5 linked regions of the Homo sapiens genome follow. The protein of the gene in region 1 interacts with the protein of each later gene in a pairwise test. Each region holds a gene or a part of one and is shown in the gene's direction. Other genes may lie near its edges.

The links.
Region 2: the proteins of CFAP298 (region 1) and RPH3A interact in a two-hybrid assay, tested with the Homo sapiens proteins (one large-scale study listed by BioGRID and IntAct).
Region 3: the proteins of CFAP298 (region 1) and FMN2 interact in a two-hybrid assay, tested with the Homo sapiens proteins (one large-scale study listed by BioGRID and IntAct).
Region 4: the proteins of CFAP298 (region 1) and TRPS1 interact in a two-hybrid assay, tested with the Homo sapiens proteins (one large-scale study listed by BioGRID and IntAct).
Region 5: the proteins of CFAP298 (region 1) and SPTBN4 interact in a two-hybrid assay, tested with the Homo sapiens proteins (one large-scale study listed by BioGRID and IntAct).

What each region holds. Positions count from the first base shown.
Region 1 is NC_000021.9:32,598,834-32,602,377, reverse strand, and holds the end of CFAP298 (cilia- and flagella-associated protein 298), read left to right. Parts: exon of another isoform or gene 1-10; coding exon 11-106; coding exon of another isoform or gene 107-154; exon of another isoform or gene 155-404; coding exon 405-515; 3' UTR 516-3,024; downstream 3,025-3,544. UniProt on the Homo sapiens protein: Plays a role in motile cilium function, possibly by acting on outer dynein arm assembly. Seems to be important for initiation rather than maintenance of cilium motility.
Region 2 is NC_000012.12:112,871,728-112,875,247, forward strand, and holds part of RPH3A (rabphilin-3A), read left to right. Parts: intron 1-840; exon of another isoform or gene 841-2,431; intron 2,432-3,057; exon of another isoform or gene 3,058-3,230; intron 3,231-3,356; coding exon 3,357-3,443; intron 3,444-3,520. UniProt on the Homo sapiens protein: Plays an essential role in docking and fusion steps of regulated exocytosis.
Region 3 is NC_000001.11:240,094,880-240,098,399, forward strand, and holds part of FMN2 (formin-2), read left to right. Parts: intron 1-3,520. UniProt on the Homo sapiens protein: Actin-binding protein that is involved in actin cytoskeleton assembly and reorganization. Acts as an actin nucleation factor and promotes assembly of actin filaments together with SPIRE1 and SPIRE2.
Region 4 is NC_000008.11:115,658,961-115,662,480, reverse strand, and holds part of TRPS1 (zinc finger transcription factor Trps1), read left to right. Parts: intron 1-3,520. UniProt on the Homo sapiens protein: Transcriptional repressor. Binds specifically to GATA sequences and represses expression of GATA-regulated genes at selected sites and stages in vertebrate development. Regulates chondrocyte proliferation and differentiation.
Region 5 is NC_000019.10:40,473,491-40,477,010, forward strand, and holds part of SPTBN4 (spectrin beta chain, non-erythrocytic 4), read left to right. Parts: intron 1-3,520.

The sequences.
Region 1 (3,544 bases):
CTCTTTGCAGAGGGGACAGGGAGCTCCAGCCCGAGAGCCTATTATTAGCAGTGAGGAGCAGAAGCAGCTGATGCTGTACTATCACAGAAGACAAGAGGAGCTCAAGGTAGCAGGGGACAGATGGGCTTTCTGCAGTGCTGGCGCCCACACATAGCCTGTGTGCCTTACCTGGGGCTGCTGGGGAGCAGTGAGCTCTGCAGAATGCCGGGGAGGGGTCTTTCTAGAGCTTCTGTCTGCAGGTCTGTCGGGGTCCTGCCAGGTGTCCCCTGGTGTTAGACATGGCAGTATCCTGCTCCTAGAGGGCAGGGAGAGGGGGAGGTCAGTCATGGACTCTTTCTTCAGTCTCTTTATGTGCAAAACACTTTCCTGAAATGCCTGCCTGAATAAAACATACTTATTTCCAGAGATTGGAAGAAAATGATGATGATGCCTATTTAAACTCACCATGGGCGGATAACACTGCTTTGAAAAGACATTTTCATGGAGTGAAAGACATAAAGTGGAGACCAAGATGAAGTTCACCAGCTGATGACACTTCCAAAGAGATTAGCTCACCTTTCTCCTAGGCAATTATAATTTAAAAAAAAAAAAAAGGCCACTTACTGCCCTCTGTAAAAGATGTTAACATTTCTAGTTTTCTTTTAGTGTGAATTTTTAAAATAGCAGTTATTCAAGGTTTTAGAACTTAATAAATACCTAGTCAGAAGAAAATGTGTAAATCGTTTTTGTTTCAGGACTATTTAGTATGTCATGGTTTTCTTTGATAAAATACTAAACTTTTGGCCGGGCGCGGTGGCTCACGCCTGTAATCCCAGCACTTTGGGAGGCCGAGGCAGGCAGATCACGAGGTCAGGAGATCAAGACCATCCAGGCTAACACGGTGAAACCCCGTCTCTACTAAAAATACAAAAAATTAGCCGGGCATGGTGGCAGGCGCCTGTAGTCCCAGCTACTCGGGAGGCTGAGGCAGGAGAATGGCGTGAACCCGGGAGGTGGAGCTTACAGTGAGCCAAGATCACTGCCACTGCACTCTATCCTGGGCAACAGAGCGAAACTCTTGTCTCAAAAAAAAAAAAAAAAAAAAAAAAAGCTACACTTTTTTTTCTTCCTGATTGTTTTATATTCTCATGATAACTGGTTTATTGGAGGAAAGCTGATGACTGGCAGTGACCACTAGTGACCACTAGATGCCGCCAGGCACTCAGCATGCTTTTTCTCCTGGCCCTCTAGATCTATTGGAAGCTGAACTCCCAGCCTTGCTGGAGAGACTTCTCTAACCCTGCTGCGGGGTCTAACTGTAGCCTTCTTTAACCCTGCTGCGGGGTCTAACTGTAGCCTTCTTTAACCCTGCTGCGGGGTCTAACTGTAGCCAGGCGTTGCCTGGCCTTGAAGGTGAAGTTTGCCTCCTGGTTGGTGCCTCTCTGGCCTTGTATTCTGGGAGCGAAAGCTACAACCATGATGAAGGTTGAGTAGCAAACTCATCTGACTTTGAAACTTAAATTCTTCTGGAGTTTCTCAGCTTCTCAAGTCTCCTTCATGAGAATAGATCCTGAAAACAAATCCAGATCCCGGTAGAGGGTGATGATTTCTCCCTATGGATGCGGGGTCTGATTCTAGGCCAGCTTCGTACGCAGCTCAGTGACCAACCACGGGATGGATGGGATCACTATCATCCTAACTGAGTATCTAGGACACCATTGAGTTTAAAGACTCCAACTCATCATCACTGTAAACCATCCAAGTATCCTGCAAACCCTGGCACTTTAGCATCTGAAAGACACCTGCCAGACTGCCTGTGGCAGTCCCTCATGCTTGACTTTTGGTGCCTAGGGTCCTGTTCTCCTGGTTAGAGGGAACTTGGTGTGCTCACACTGAGGGAAAGTGAAGGACGCGGGGCATCTTCCTGCCCTGGCCTTCCTGCCTTGGTGCCTGCGCTCCCCACCATCCTGCAAAGAGGAACCCTGGGAGTGAGTGGAGGTGGCAGGGGTTTGGTTCCTGCCTGCTGCCAGGCGGCCTTGCCCAGGGGGTGGGTCCCAGACCTGAGAGCAAAGCGCTGTTCTCTGAAGTGCTTTGTAGCTGACTGCATCTTGTGCCTTACTCTTTTGGTTGATTTTCAAATTTTGTAAAAGCAAATTTGCATCTATTTTCTCTTTTACTTGGTTATAGTTTTAAATGTCTCTATGAAAGGGTTTTGACCTTGGATGATGTAGTATATGCAATAAGATGCTGTGATTTTATTTCAGGAGCATCCTGTCTTTGTCAGTGTATAGTTCGTGTGTGTTAAATTCATGCTCAGACTTGTAAGAAACAGTTAACCAAGCCATGTGATCATAGTAGCTCTTTTCAGGGAACTACTACTTCAATATCATTAGAAAGTCTTACTGAGCCTGCAGTAGGAATACTCTTTTGGCCGTGATAGTTATCCCATTGCTTCATGTAATCAGCAGAACTTACTAACCAAAAAGTCACTCACGCATGACACTACACTCCTTAAATACCCATGCGAGAAGAACCATCCTCTCTCCCTGCCCTTGTCTGCCTCAAAAGCCTCTCTGAGCTTGGTGTGTTTGGGTGCAGCAGATCTCAGGAAGTACGTGAGTAGCTTATTTGCAAGCCATCTGTGACGGCGGGGGGCAGGTGGTGCCCGCTGTGGCACCGTGCTGTGTGTGTTCCCTTTGCATCCACTTGCTGACTCACCCAAGGTCACAGGTAGCTAGTGGTGGTAGGACCACAGGGTCACGTCCAGGAACTTTCCCAGGATTTCCCAAGAAATCAATTTATCAACAAAAGTAATCTTGCCAGTGTTAGACCACTGATCAGCTTAAGTCTGTGGTCTTGTTGTTATTTTCTTCTTTTTTTAATCCAGTCCCTGTTTGAGTCAATATCAAAAGGAAACCAAGTGTCTGCTGTATGCACGGTGCCCATCTAGGTCTGTGGTTTTGTCCTTTGACATAACTTGTCTTCTTATGTGGTTCTTTCATGGAGACCAGGAATGCTAGTAATAAAATTTGATACCACCTAAAACCTTTTCGACCATCAAACTGACAGCATCAGGCAGTATTTCTGTCACAAGATTACCTCGTTCCTTGGCAACTGCTCTGCAAAGAGTGTGCCATCAAGCTTGAAATGAACTGCCACATACTTGGAGCACAGTAGCCTTGAGAGGGTCTGAGCTCACTAAATTCCCTTCCAAAGCCTCAGCAACCACCCCCTTGAAGAAGTGACCAGAGAGAGCTGCTTGCCCCGACCTCTTGCCGTTCCTTGCAAGATAGGAGTTGCCCCTCTACACTACCAAAAACCCACTGGCCCTGGACAGGGCTCAAGGAGAGAGGTGGCTGATTTCCAGGAGAAGTTCGATACTAGACATAACAGTAACGGCAGCTGGCATTATGGGGACTTTGCTATTTCCCAGACGGTTGTACTAAGCACTTTACCTATATATTCTTTTCGTTTATACCTAAAAACAGCCAAATTAGAAAGAAACTACTATTGTCATCTCACGAGTTAGGAAACCAAAGTCCAGAGGGATTAAATTGCCCAAGGT
Region 2 (3,520 bases), on another chromosome or scaffold:
TAGTGTACATATATATACAATAGAATATATAGAAACAGTATATATAATATAAAATATACAATATACAGTATACGTTATATATTATATACATATAGTGTATATACACACAGTGCATATACTATATATAGTGGTGTATATGTATATACATGTATATATACATATATATAGTGGTGTGTGTGTATATATATATTATATATACTACATTCTGTTTATCCATTCACCCATCAGTGGGAGTTTGGTTTATTTCAACCTTTTAGCTGTTGTAAATGATGTCATTGTGCGCCTGACATACAAATATCTGTTGCACTCTGTTCTTTTGAGTATATACCTATAAGTGAAGTTGCTGGATCATATGGTAATTCTGTGTTTAATTTTTTGAGGAACCACCATTCCGTTTTCCATGGTGGCTGAGACATTTTTAGATTCCCACCAACAATGCAAAAGGGTTCTCATTTCTCCATGTCCTCACCAATATTTGTTATTCTCTGGGTTTTGTTTTTGTTTTTAATAAGTCATCCCAGTGGTGTGAAGTGGCATCTCCTTGTGGTTTTGACTTGCATTTCCCTATGATTAGTGATACTGAGCATCTTTTCTTGTGCTTTTGGCCATTTGGATATTTTCCCTGGAGACACAGCTATTCAAGTCCTTTGAACACATTTTAAACTGGATAGTTTGTCTTTTGTTGTTGAGTCATAGAAGTTCTTTATATATTCTGGATATTAATGTCTTATCAGATATATAATTTACACATTTTTCTCTTATTTCATGGGTTGTTTTTTCACTCTTTTATAGTGTCATTTGATGCAAAGAAGGCTTTTATTTTGATGAAGCCCAGTTTCTTTTCTTTTTCTTTTCTTGCCTATGTTTTTAGTGTCATATCTAAGAAATCATTGCCTAATCTAAGATCATGAAGAAGTTCCTTTATGTTTTCTTCTAAGAGTTTTATAGTTTTAGCCCTTATATTTGGGTCTTTGATTCATTTTGAGTTAATTTCCACATATCAAATCCTGCTTTTAACGTCTATATTATTTTGTCTTCTGAGGACAAAGACAGTCATAGGACATTTCTGAACTGGATTTGAATCCCCTGTCCCTCAGGAGTCAATGTAAATATTCGTCTTGTCTAGCTTCTAGCATCCACCTGCTCCACCTTGAGTTGGGTTAGCTGCTACCTTCTCTGAGCTCCCAGGGTGGTGAGACGCAGCCCTAATGCAGGACTTATCACTGTCTAAAGCATTATAGCCTGAATCTCTCTCCCTTGTAATACCAGGGACATGTCTCTCTCCATTAATTTATTATGTTTCCAAATATTTGGAGCATCTACCATAATTTTATCTCTTGCTCATCATTTTCCAGCCTATACTAAGATTCTTAGTTGATTATAGGCTCTCAAATACTTACAGATTTGAATTAATAATCATAATAACAACTTAAACTTATTGAGCATCTACTCTCTGCCGGGTATGTGATTAAACCCTTTGCATGGGTCATACTGATCCAATCCACAGCTCTTTTTGGATAGGTACTATTGTAGTCATCTTCACATAATAGATGCAGCAAAGAGAGGCTAAAACAATCTCAAGGTCACATAAAAGTAATAGCAGGGCTAGTGTTTAACCCAGGCAGTTCACGTGCAGAGCCAATGCTCCTAGCTGGTCTGTTACAAGTTCCACTTGAGGGACTGAGAGCAGCTCAGTAAAACAAATTCCCAGTAAAACTCCCTTGTTCCAGGGCTTAATCCTGGAATCTCAGAGTCCTCCCTCACACACAGTGTGGAAATCCCTTCAGAGGTCTCTGAAAGGCTTTTGATCACCCACATACTCTCTGTCTCCCTACCTCTTGGAGCGGCTTATTCTATTGTTGATGGGCTTCAGGTGTGATTTACACATTCAACAAGATCTGAGATAGATTTGGACAGAAGTCCTACCTTCGGGGCTTCCTGGTTATGTGACCTTGGGCATATTTAACCCCCACTACCTCAACTGCAAAATGGGGAGCACAATACCATGCATGGCATTGAGTTGTGAAGCTTCCATGAGGCGATGTTCAAGGCCTGGTGCATTTGAAGAACTCAATGACTGTTGGGTATTGTTGCATCATAAACTCATCATTTCAGTGTCTGTCTCCTTCCTGTGACTGGGCTGTGCACTCCTGGAGGATATAAGATGGTGTTTTGTTCATCTTAGCACAGGGATTGGCACTTGGTAGACACCCACTGGATGCTTGTTGAATGAACAAATGAATGAATGGACAAATGAACAGGGCCTCAAGTGAACAAACAAATGGCAGTGCTAATGTGGGAACCTGGGACAAGACTTGGTGATTTGTAAGCCCCCAGGCAGAGGTGGTAAAGCACCTTTTGTTATGTGTATTCAAGCATCCATCCAGCCAAAAGTGCTGGATTCAGGAAAGATGGCATCTAGCCCAGTGAGGTAAGAAAAAGCAGGGCTTTCTTCCCAGAACATCACACCTTCTGGGTACCAGAAACTGCTGCACACATCATTCCATTCAGTCCCTCTCTGGGAAACAACAGCATGTAAGGGTCTCTGGCACAGATTCCAGAGGCCAACTGCCAGCGTTCAAACCCTGGCTCTGCAGTAACCAGCCAAGAGACATTAGATGAGCTCAGTAACTTCTCTGTGCCTCAGTTTCCCCATCTATAAAATGGAGATCATAAGGCCCCACCCCATAAGGTTATTAGTAGAAATTAAAGAAGTTCTTATATGTAAAGTCCAGGGCACATGGTAAGCACTAAATAAGTATGAATTCATTATCATTATGAGTTAAGTGGAACTGTTGCCTCCATGGGGCATCTAAGGTTCAGAGAGGATGAGTATCCAGCCCAGGGTCACACAGGCCATATGGGAAACAGCAGGAAGGCAAAGCCAAGTCCATATGAAGATAGAGACACATTCTTTCAATAATAATAAAATAATCTCACCACCTGTCATGTGTCGAGTCTTTAGTACATGCCAAGCACTGTTCTGAGCATTGCCTGTTTGTGTCATTGTATCTTCCCCACAACTCTATCAGCTAAGTGATTATCTCCATATACCAGGTGAGGAAACTGAGGCCCAGAGAGGACAGGTCACTTGAGCAACGTCACACAGGTGGAAGGAGGATTGTAGAACCTGTGCTTTTTAACAACTGCTGCTGCTGTGACTCACCAGAGTCTGAGTATTGAGAAGAAAGAACACACTGAAGGCAGAAGAGTCAGAAAGAGCTGAGCGAGTGAGGAGCTGCCTCCAGTGAAAGTCCAAGGGGCTCACCCCACACCAGCTGAGTGGTCCCAAGCTCCTTCCTGCTGTGTGTGTGTGTGTGACACATAATGGCTGTTTTCTTTTCTTTCCTCTGCAGGTTTGAGACGGGCCAACTCAGTCCAGGCCTCCAGACCTGCCCCAGGCTCGGTGCAGAGCCCAGCGCCACCTCAGCCTGGGCAGCCAGGTACCTGCCACTCACCTGCTAGCACCTGCCCAGGCTGTCACTCGGCTGTGACCCTCATACCTCCCATCCCTGCTTGC
Region 3 (3,520 bases), on another chromosome or scaffold:
ATTGGGGTAGCTACTTTTATTGACCACATTTTAATTTTCATCTGTGGGCCACCTTTTATTTTGCCCTTATAGGGTCTTACCCTTAAAAGTAGCTTCTTCCATTCATTTCACATACTCTTATTTTTCTTCTTTTCCACCTTCTCTTTATTGTGTAGATTGTTAAAAAGAATGTTTGTAGTTTTATACCCACTAGATAAATTGTAAAAAAACAAAAACAAAATGCAAAACAAATAAAAAAGAAAGATCACTTTTGATAGAAGAAGATTGGAAAGTTTTTGCATTAATTTTTGTGAATTTAATGTTGGTAAGAAATCACATATTTTCTCTTTATCTAAGTGACATTCACGTATATAGTTTTTGAAAAGTGAAAATAATTCACCATAATGATTATCAATCATTAATATTAATGATAGCTATTCCTACTAGCATAAGACTTTGGAAATTTATTTATTTCATTCATTTAGCAAATATATATATGTATATACATTTGTAAGCATATATGTGCATACACACACACACACACACACACACATTGAGCAGCCACATTGTGCTAGGCAGTATTCTAAATAGTAGCACACTGTGCTAGGCAGTATTCTAGATGTAGGTGATACATAGACCATTAAATCATGATTTTGCCTTTCTAAGGCTCGCTGACTAGTGAGGAGGAGACATGACATAAGTGCAGTGCACAGAAATATCTGTATAGATATAGACATGCAAATCACTGCTGGGAACATCACGGATGCAGTGGCTTATCTGCTTGGTGGCAAGGGGTGAGGGAAGAGGACTTGAGAGAGGAGGATTGAACAGAGTCCTGGAAGATCACAAGACCCTAAATAGGTTGAATGTTTGTTTTCCTTTAAAAAAACAAGTGTCTTCTTGGAACTTGCATTTTAGTTTAATTTGCTAAGTATTCCCAAATTTGAAATTTGGGACTCTTAAAAGAGTCCTGTATAGGAACCACCTGGGTTTTGTTGACCTCTCCAGGTGATTTGTTTTTTAAATTGTGCAAAGTAAAATTGCAGAGCTAGTCGTTTTTATAAGGACATCACCTATTTTGTATTTGATGGTTGGATACAGCTGGTTGGTAATCAGCAAATATATTTTTGTGTAGCAGCTTCCGTATGTTTATGTCATTCACTCAGCATTGTTCAGGAAAAGAGGATCAGTAGGTTTTACCTAACTTTGTAACTGGTGGGAAAATGTAGATAGAGAAAGAGGTGAAATAACTTTCTCAAGGTCACACTGTGATTCATTCAGAGGCAGATCCAGAAATAGAAACTGAGTCAATGAATCAAGTCTAATGTCATTATTATTTCTGTTTGGATATACAATGTTTTAAGGCCATATAGAGAGTAAAAACTGTTTATAAAAAATGTGATCAGATTTAGGGCCTTTCTTTAATTAGATTTTCCAGTTCCTGTTTTTAATAAGGTGTCCTCCTTTAATGGTTGAACATCTGGCCTTCCTTGAGCTGGATGAAGGGTGATTGTTGGCCAGAGTGAACCAGATTTTCTCTAAGCAGCTCTCATGGAAACTGTTCTTATGGTGGTCAAATGAATCCAGATTGACACAGGCCCTTGTGTCTCAGCTGTCAACTCTTCATGTCATCTGCCACTACGTTTGCTTCTTTACTCTCCTCTGCTATTTTTTTACGGGTGTCTTGGAAATTACCAGAGGCTTGGGGAACACTGGCATTGTCCTTAGGGAAATTTCTTTTTGGCCTTAATTTTGCATGTATTTGGATCAATTAATTGCCAGCTGCCTTTGAAGCAGGTGATCATTATATCTATAAGCTTCCATAAGCATCTTTTATTTTTAAACCATAGAATGAGGGTTGTCAGCATTACAGGAAGAAACAGATGTTTTTCGCTTTTTACCGCCTTCCAAATGTAGGGAGAAAATACAAGTGAAAAGGGATTTCTATGGCACATGTCTGTGTCTCTTTGGTAGATCTAAAAACATTTAGCAATGAGGGAGACCAAACTTTATCTTGTTTTAGCTATTAAGAAACTGATGATGCCTTAGGCCATTGCATTTAAGTATTTCATAATTAATGTGTTTGAAATACATCTTTTTCAGTGTTTAGTAGAAAAAATGGCGTCTGAAATTCGGGAGGTTCCTTTACATATTAAGTATAACAGAAGCTTGGTACTGGAGTTTTGCAGTTAATTAAAGTTTAGATATCCAACGTGTTAAATTTGTGATGCTAAATCGCTTTTGATAGGAATCTTTCCCAAGTCAATTATGTGCTTATCTTTTTTTTTAAACACATGGAATAAAAGTTTAATCTGTTTTAAAGGGCTTAATGTCATCTTCAGGCACATCATTGTTACATCTTATAAAAACATTAGTGATGTCCTCAACAGCTATTGAAGTGTGTGGGCTGTTGGCTTCAGTCTGTAGTTTCTGAGTTTTTGTGTCTGTGTAGTTTCTTGATTGTTTTCTTGCTGCCAGCTATTTATTGTTATAGCTGCCTTTTTTTTTTTTTTTTGAGACAGAGTCTCGCTCTGTTGCCCAGGCTGGAGTGCAGTGGCACGACTTCTGCTCACTGCAAGCTCCGCCTCCTGAGTTCACGCCATTCTCCTGCCTCAGCCTCCTGAGTAGCTGGGACTACAGGCGCCCACCACCATGCCCAGCTAATTTTTTGTATTTTTAGTACAGACGGGGTTTCACCGTGTTAGCCAGGATGGTCTTGATCTCCTGACCTCGTGATCCGCCCGCCTCGGCCGCCCAAAGTGCTGGGATTACAGGCGTGAGCCACCGCGCCCGGCTATAGCTGTCTTTAGTCTCTTTGCTCCTGTCCCTCAATTTTTTTGTAATTTGACTTTTCTGATCAATTTGCAATTGGCTTACAATTCCTGTAATTATGATATTGGTTACACTTATTGTACTTCTAAGTGCCAGACTCTGTTGGTGCATTACATAACTATCTGTAATCCTTAACAACAGTCTTGAGGTGTAGCTGTTTATCCTCATTTTTCGAATGAAAAAACCCAGGCTCAGACAGTAAAGTAACTTCTTGTCTAAGGGCATTAAGCTAGTAAGTGGCCCATCCAGGATATGTCCTTAGAAAACCAAATCTGTTGTTAATATGTATAAGATGAAACCAAGTAGATCATTGAGCTTTTGGAGGACTAGCTAATTAATAAAGTGCATAGGCTCTAGAACTTGGATTGTGCAACTCTGATTTTGGCCTTTCTAAAGGTTATCTTGAATTTTTTTTTTTTTTTTTTTTTGGAGACAGATTTCACTCTTGTCGCCAAGGCTGGAATGAAGTGGCGTGATCTTGGCTCACTGCAACCTCCGCCCACTGGGTTCAAGCAATTCTCCTGCCTCAGCTTCCAGAGTAGCTGGGATTATAGGCGCCCATGACCACACCCAGCTAATTTTTGTATTTTTAGTAGAGACAGGATTTCACCATGTAGGCCAGGCTGGTCTTGAACTCCTGACCTCAGGTGTTCTATCTGCCTTGGCCTCCCCAAGTGCTAGGAGGCCTATCTTGATTTTTATATCAGTA
Region 4 (3,520 bases), on another chromosome or scaffold:
CTCCGCCCCATTCGGTGGCTCAGAACTAAGTACTGTTTCGACTTTTCTTTTGTGAATTGTTCCTGAGGTTTAAATCTTACGGTTACTTGTCGTGGACTTTGCTTTTAACCCAAATTCTTCCTGATAGATTTTTTTTTTCCTTCTTTACCTAGAGCACATTTAAGGAATAATATATATAGTGAAAATTAAGTGTCACACAAGGAAGAGTACAGTCTTTAAGGCATTTATGACTATAAAAAGCATTCCGCAAATTTGGGGCATTGAAGTGTTCTCTGCTTATAAATTTGACAGTTTTGATTTACTTGATATGTTTCTCAGTTTTTCTTGCGAGAGTTACAGACTCTAGTTCAAATCGTAGGCATTCCTTTTTTGCTTATGGCTTCTTTAGTTAAAGATTTGTTTGGAAAAACTTTAGGAACTTAATGTATATGTTGTTCACATCAGCATAGTGCAAGTTTCTTGGAGTAAGTCTAGATTCATTTTATTTATTACAAAGTTTTCAAACATACATTTCATGTTATGGCTGCATCTGTTAATAAATTTTTATTTAATGAATTTTGTTTGTTGCTTCAAAAATGAGGAAAAGCAATAAAGTTTAGCAAGAAGGAAATAAGGCAAAGGGAGGTGTTTAGAGTTGCAGTCCCTTAATATCGCAGATTGTTTACTGGTAAGTGGTGGGGAGGGGTTGGTGGGAGGTTTTGTGGAAGATGATACCAAAAAAAAAAAAAAAAATCCATCAATTGCGCATATGCTCCCCTCCCCTTAAGGTTTACTTAAACAATATGTTTCGATTTTGCCGCAAACCATTCTGCACTACTTCTGCTCCAAGAATCCACCACTATCTTGGTTCCTGAGAGATTAAGGATGATGTTTTCTGTTGTATAATGAACAGCAGTATTATTTGAACAAAGGTAACACTTTTTGATTTGTGTAATTTTTTAGTAGCTTGTCATAGGATACCTATAATATGAGAGGAGTTCTAGCAATGTAATTGCCTGCAAATGTTTGAAGTACTCACGATAGCTTTGCTATGTTTGAATTATTGCCAATATATGTGCATGCTATTATAGGTGTGTTTTATATGTGGAATGTATGTAGACCGATAATACTTAGACACATCTTGATGGTGGAATTTAGAATGCTAACTATTAACTCTGTGCTTGAAATGTGAATCTTTTAAGGAGTTAACATGACCTACATTATGAAGTCTAAAAGTTTGAAATGAGTATGGAGTTTAAACATAATGAATCAATTGTTATCATAATACTTATATCTGCTCTGAATTTACTAAGGAATTTTTTTAAATGAAAAAAATTATAAATCAAAATGCCACCTTTCAGTGTATTGTAAGAAATGCTTCTGAGATCATTTTTTAAGTCTCATTTCTGTTAAGAGGAGCAGTTAAGGGACAGGACTGTTTGTGAGTATATCACTTTATGGGCTACCACTTTATAGTTTACAATTCTATCATCTCAAAACGTTATGTAGAAATAATATGGAACATGTAAAGACTCTGTACTATGACCCAATGCATTTTTCCCTAGGGTGATGGATTCTGTGCGTCACCCAAATGTGATGCTATTTGCCAGGCTTGTAATACTGGTTTTGAGGGTTGATCTATGTCCTATTTCATCAAGCAACACAATACAACAACTTTGGTATCTAGGGTAATTGACACAGTCAAAATAGTCTCTGGAAAACATTCCATATACTTTTAAGTTAAGTCAGAAGTTAATGTACATATTAAATTTATTTAACATGAATAAACAAATGATTTATTGTTAGCTATTTGTCTAATATACTAGATAGTGTTAGAAGGAAATATACAAGTATTTACAGTTTATGTTCCATTTCTTTTTTTCTTTTTTGAGGGGAGCATGGTTCTCTTGTTTGCGTTCATAATAGCTTTATCTGTTAATTACTTTGTATTCATGATAGTGAGTAGTATAGTATCATAAATCATAGTAAACATGTTTATATTATCTGCTATATATGTCCCAAGCTTGGAAAAAGCATTAATATTACTAGTTGTTAAATTGAGTATTATAGTAACCAGGAATGAATCCAGTACCGTATAAGACAATAGATAAGACATCAACTGCTATTTAAACACTAAAAATACCTTAGCTGTAGAAAAAGAAAGATCAAAAGGATTTCAGAGCTGTTTTTACTTGTAGAATTTGGACAGAATGTATAAAGCTTACAAATCAATAAACATTAATAATATAACATGTGCTTCCTGATTAGATTCTACAATACAATGTGAATTGCTATTTCAATTTCTCTACATATCATATGGAAGATCAGATATGTTTATAAATAGTGTAAAAATATATGGCAGAAATTAGTTTGTGGAATCTAATTTCTCTATTACATGATACACTTCATGTACAAAGGGATCAAGCATTACTAATCTAGTGTTAGCTTTTGCTCTCTGAGCTATGCAGAAGTGGAATATATGAATTTGTGGCTTCATATTAAATAAGTGCGTACATGTACATGCAGGATAGCTATAGTCTCACTTGCTTAGAATGTTTTTACATTACAGGCACTACATGGAATTTTAGCATATTGCATATTTTTTGAAATGACTTTAGTCTTTGTAATGCCCATTTTAATTACTTAATGCATCCCAACACCTATTTGAGGGTTAATTTAATTGTAATTTTGGTTCTGAAATGAGAGCATGATAGACAAAACAAATTAAAAACCAAATTCTACTTGTGCCTACTTTGTGATGTCATTATCTGCACATCATCTTTAGCTTTGCAAGATGTGGAAATAAAATACATCAGCCCATTTTCTCTCAATACTCTTAAGTAGCTCTGAACATATAAAAGTTCCTAAAAGAAAGTTTTGTATTTGTTTTTGCTTTGCTTTTTGATGCCAAGTTAAGACAGGTCATATATATATTAATTTTAATCAAGGCCCATATTACTAAATTTTTCAATACATATTCATCTCTTTGTTGTATGATTCATAATTCTTTATCGATTATTTTTTGATATACCTTTGAGATCTTTTAAAATGATATGTTTTACCTGTGTTTGGCTGCTGAATTTTTATATTAGTAATTATATTTAAATTATAAATTAAAAAATACGGAATATGTTAAGCTGTCTTTAAATTAATATTGGAAGTATACCTTTTTAGAAGATTATTGCAAAATTTGCTCCTCAGTTCTGCAAACTTAGGGAAGTTTTAGAAAATAATTTACAAGTAGTCAGTAAGTAGTTACACATTCAAGGATTGAAAAATATGAAATACTATTTTCTGTAGCTTATAAACCAACACTAAGAGATGTTTCTCCTTTGTATTTATAATGCATTTGAATTACATTCTTTGGATGTATGATGTGGTAAATTACTGTAAGAAACTCACTGTCATCTAAACCTCAATTATAATAAACTATTTTACTCTATCCCATCACTGTTTATTCTATTTTTAAAGTCCCGTTTTTAAGAAAACTTGTGCTTTTGAAGGAATGCCCTCATTATTTATAACATATTTTGCTTTTTCT
Region 5 (3,520 bases), on another chromosome or scaffold:
GGGATTACAGGCATGTGCCACCACGCCCAGCTAATTTTGTATTTTTACTAGAGACGGGGTTTCTCCATGTTGGTCAGGCTGGTCTCGAACTCCCAACCTCAGGTGATCCACATGTCTCGGCCTCCCAAAGTGCTGAGATTACAGGCATGAGCCACGGCACCCGGCCTGTTTTAATTAAATTTAAATAGCCACATGTGGCTTGTGACTGCTGTATAGGTCAGCACAGCCTTAGAGCCTTAGAAATGTACAGTCCCAGAATGGTGGGACTCTGTAAGCATATTCCCTTAGAATCCCGAAATGCAGAGCCATCAGATCCTTGGAACTTGAAATGTCTAAGAGATTCTTAGACCTCTTGAAATGAAGACCTCTGGCCTGGCGCGGTGGCTCACGCCTGTAATCCCAGCACTTTGGGAGGCAAAGGTGGACAGATCTCTTGAGTGCAGGAGTTCGAGACCATGTTCGCCAACATAGTGAAACCCTGTCTCTACTAAAAATAAAAATAAAAAAAAAAATTAGCCAGGCGTGGTGGCATGCATCTGTAGTTCCAGCTATTTGGGAGGCTGAGGTGGGAGGATGGCCTGAGACTGTGAGGTGGAGATTGCAGTGAGTCAAGATCGCGCCACTGCACTCCAGCCCCAGCAGTAAAGCAAGAACCTATCTCAAAAAAAAAAAAAAAAAAAAAAAAAAAAGAGCTTTGGAAATGTGAAACGTTATCATCACAGACCTAAGAAATTTTAGTCATTGTTCCCTAGGATCATAGGCCCTTAGAAACTGAAACTGTAATACACAGGAACCTTTGGGACTTGATAATACTAAACCTTTGGAGTTTCCAATTAGAAATGTGGATCTTGAGAAATCTGACATAGAGTGACCAAAACCTTCCTGCTTTTACCACCGAAACTCTCAGCCTTGGGCCAACCAGTACAGTGGGTCACCCTACCATTTTTTTTTTTTTTTTGAGTCAGGGTCTCACTCTTCACCCAGGCTGGAGTGCAGTGGTGTGATCATGGCTCACTGCAGCCTTGAACTCCTGGACTCAAGTGATCCTCCCACCTCAGCCTCCTGAATAGCTGGAACTACAGGCATGCGCCACCATGCCTGGCTAATTAAAAATAATTTTTTTTTTTGGCGAAGCATGGTGGCGGATGCCTGTAATCCCAGCACTTTGGGAGGCTGAGGCGGATGGATCACTTGAGATCAGGAGTTTGAGACCAGCCTGACCAATATGGTGACACTACTAAAAATACAAAAATTAGATGGGTGTGGTGGTGGGCACCTGTAATCTCAGCTACCCAGGAGGCTGAGGCAGGAGAATCACTTGAACCCGGGAGATGGGGGTTTCAGTGAGCTGAGATCACACCATTTCAATCCATCCTAAGTGACAAGAGCTTAACTCCGTCTCAAAACAAAACAAAAAAATTTTTTTGTAAGATGGGGTCTTGCTATGTTGCCCAGGCTGGTGTGGAACTCCTGGGCTAAAATAACCCTCCCACCTCGGCCTCCGAAAGTGCTTTGATTACAGGGGTAAGCCAGAGTGCCTAGTAGTCACCCTACTTTGATGTATCAGAACAATATTAGCAAAGACCAGAGAACTTTATAGTTATAGAAAGACCTTAGACCTTTAGAACTGTAGACCCTTGAACCTTAGTACTTAGTATTCATAGAGGTCTGGAACCTTAGAAGTGTTTAATCATCAGCATTAAAACTGGCAAAGACCCTGAGGAGCCTCAGAGATATGGAACGTCATAATCATAAGCCTTTAAAACATGACACCCTAGCACCTTTGACCCTTGGGACCTTAACATCTTAGAAACACGGAGCGCTAGAATCATAAAATATAGATGATCATAATCATGAATTCTTAAAACCCAAAGGTCAGAATCAGTTCCCTCCAAATCTTAGAACTTTAGTAACTCAGCAGTTTATAATCACAAGATGGATCTCTGATACTAAGATTTTTGGAACTTTATTTATTTATTTATTTATTTGAGGTGGAGTCTCACTCTGTTGCCCAGGCTGGAGTGCAGTGGCGCAATGTCAGCTCACTGCAACCTCCACCTCCCAGGTTCATGAGATTCTCCCGCCTCGGGAGTCCCGAGTAGCTGGGACTACAGGCCCGCACCACCATGCCTGGCTAATTTTTGTATTTTTAATTGAGGCGGGGTTTCACCATGATGGCCAGGCTGGTCTTGAACTCCTGGGCTCGGGCAATCTGCCCACCTTGGCCTCCCAAAATGCTAGGATTACAGGCATGAGCCATGGCGCTGGCTCAAGAAACCTGGCTGATCTAGAAACCTGTAGTCCCAGCACTTTGAGAGGCCGAGGCGGGCGGATCGCTTGAGCCCAGGAGTTCGAGACCAGCCTGGCCAACATGGTGAAACCCCGTCTCTACTAAAAATATAAACATTAGCCAGGTGTGGTGGCGCATGCCTGTAGTTCCAGCTAGTCAACAGGCTGAGGTGGGAGAATCTCCTGAGCCCGGGAAGCAGAGGTTGCAGTGAGCCGAGATTGTGCCACTGCACTCCAGCCTGGGCAACAGGTTGAGACCCTGTCTCAAAACAATAAGAAACCTGGTTAGGCGCGGTAGCTCACGCCTATAATCCCAGCGCTTTGGGAGGCCAAGGTGGGGGGATCACTGGAGGTTGGGTGTTTGAGACCAGCCTGGCCAGCACGGCAAAACCCTGTCTCTATTAAAAATACAAAAATTAGCTGGGTGTGGTGGCGCGTGCCTCTAATCCCAGCTACTCAGGAGGATGAGGCAGGAGAATCGCCTGAACCTCAGAGGCGGAGGTTGCAGTGAGCCTAGATCGTGCCATTGTACTCCAGCCTGGGCGTCAATAGCAAAACTCTGTCTCAAAAAAAAAAAAAAAAAAGAGAGAGAGAGAGAAATCTGTATATGCCACAAAGTATGAACCAGATTCAACTGGTGGATTGCCAGCTTTGTCTGATCTAGAAACCTAGACTGATGAAAACATACACTCATGGAAACTTACAGTCATACTTTTAGAGCCTTAGAACCTTAAAAAGGTAGGAACATATCAACTTAGAATTCTAGAATTTACTAATTTAGTGTAAGTGAGTTTGTTTTTAGTTTTGTTTGTTTGTTTTTGTTTTTGAGAAGGAGTCTTGCTCTGTCGCCCAGGCTGGAGGGCAGTGACACTATCTCGGCTCACTGCAAGCTCCGCCTCCTGGGTTCATGCCATTCTCCTGCCTCAGCCTCCCGAGTAGCTAGGACTACAGGCGCCTGCCACCATGCCCCGCTAATTTTTTGTATTTTTAGCAGAGATGGGGTTTCACTGTGTTAGCCAGGATGGTTTTGATCTCCTGACCGCGTGATCTGCCCGCCTTGGCCTCCCAAAGTGCTGGAATTACAGGCATGAGCCACCGCGCCCGTCCTGTTTTTAGTTTTTGTTTGTTTTTTGAGGAGGAGGGGGTCTCTCCATGTTGCCTAGACAGGTCTCAAACTCCCGGTGTCAACTCATCCTTCTGAGTAGCTGGGATTACAGATGTGTACCACCAC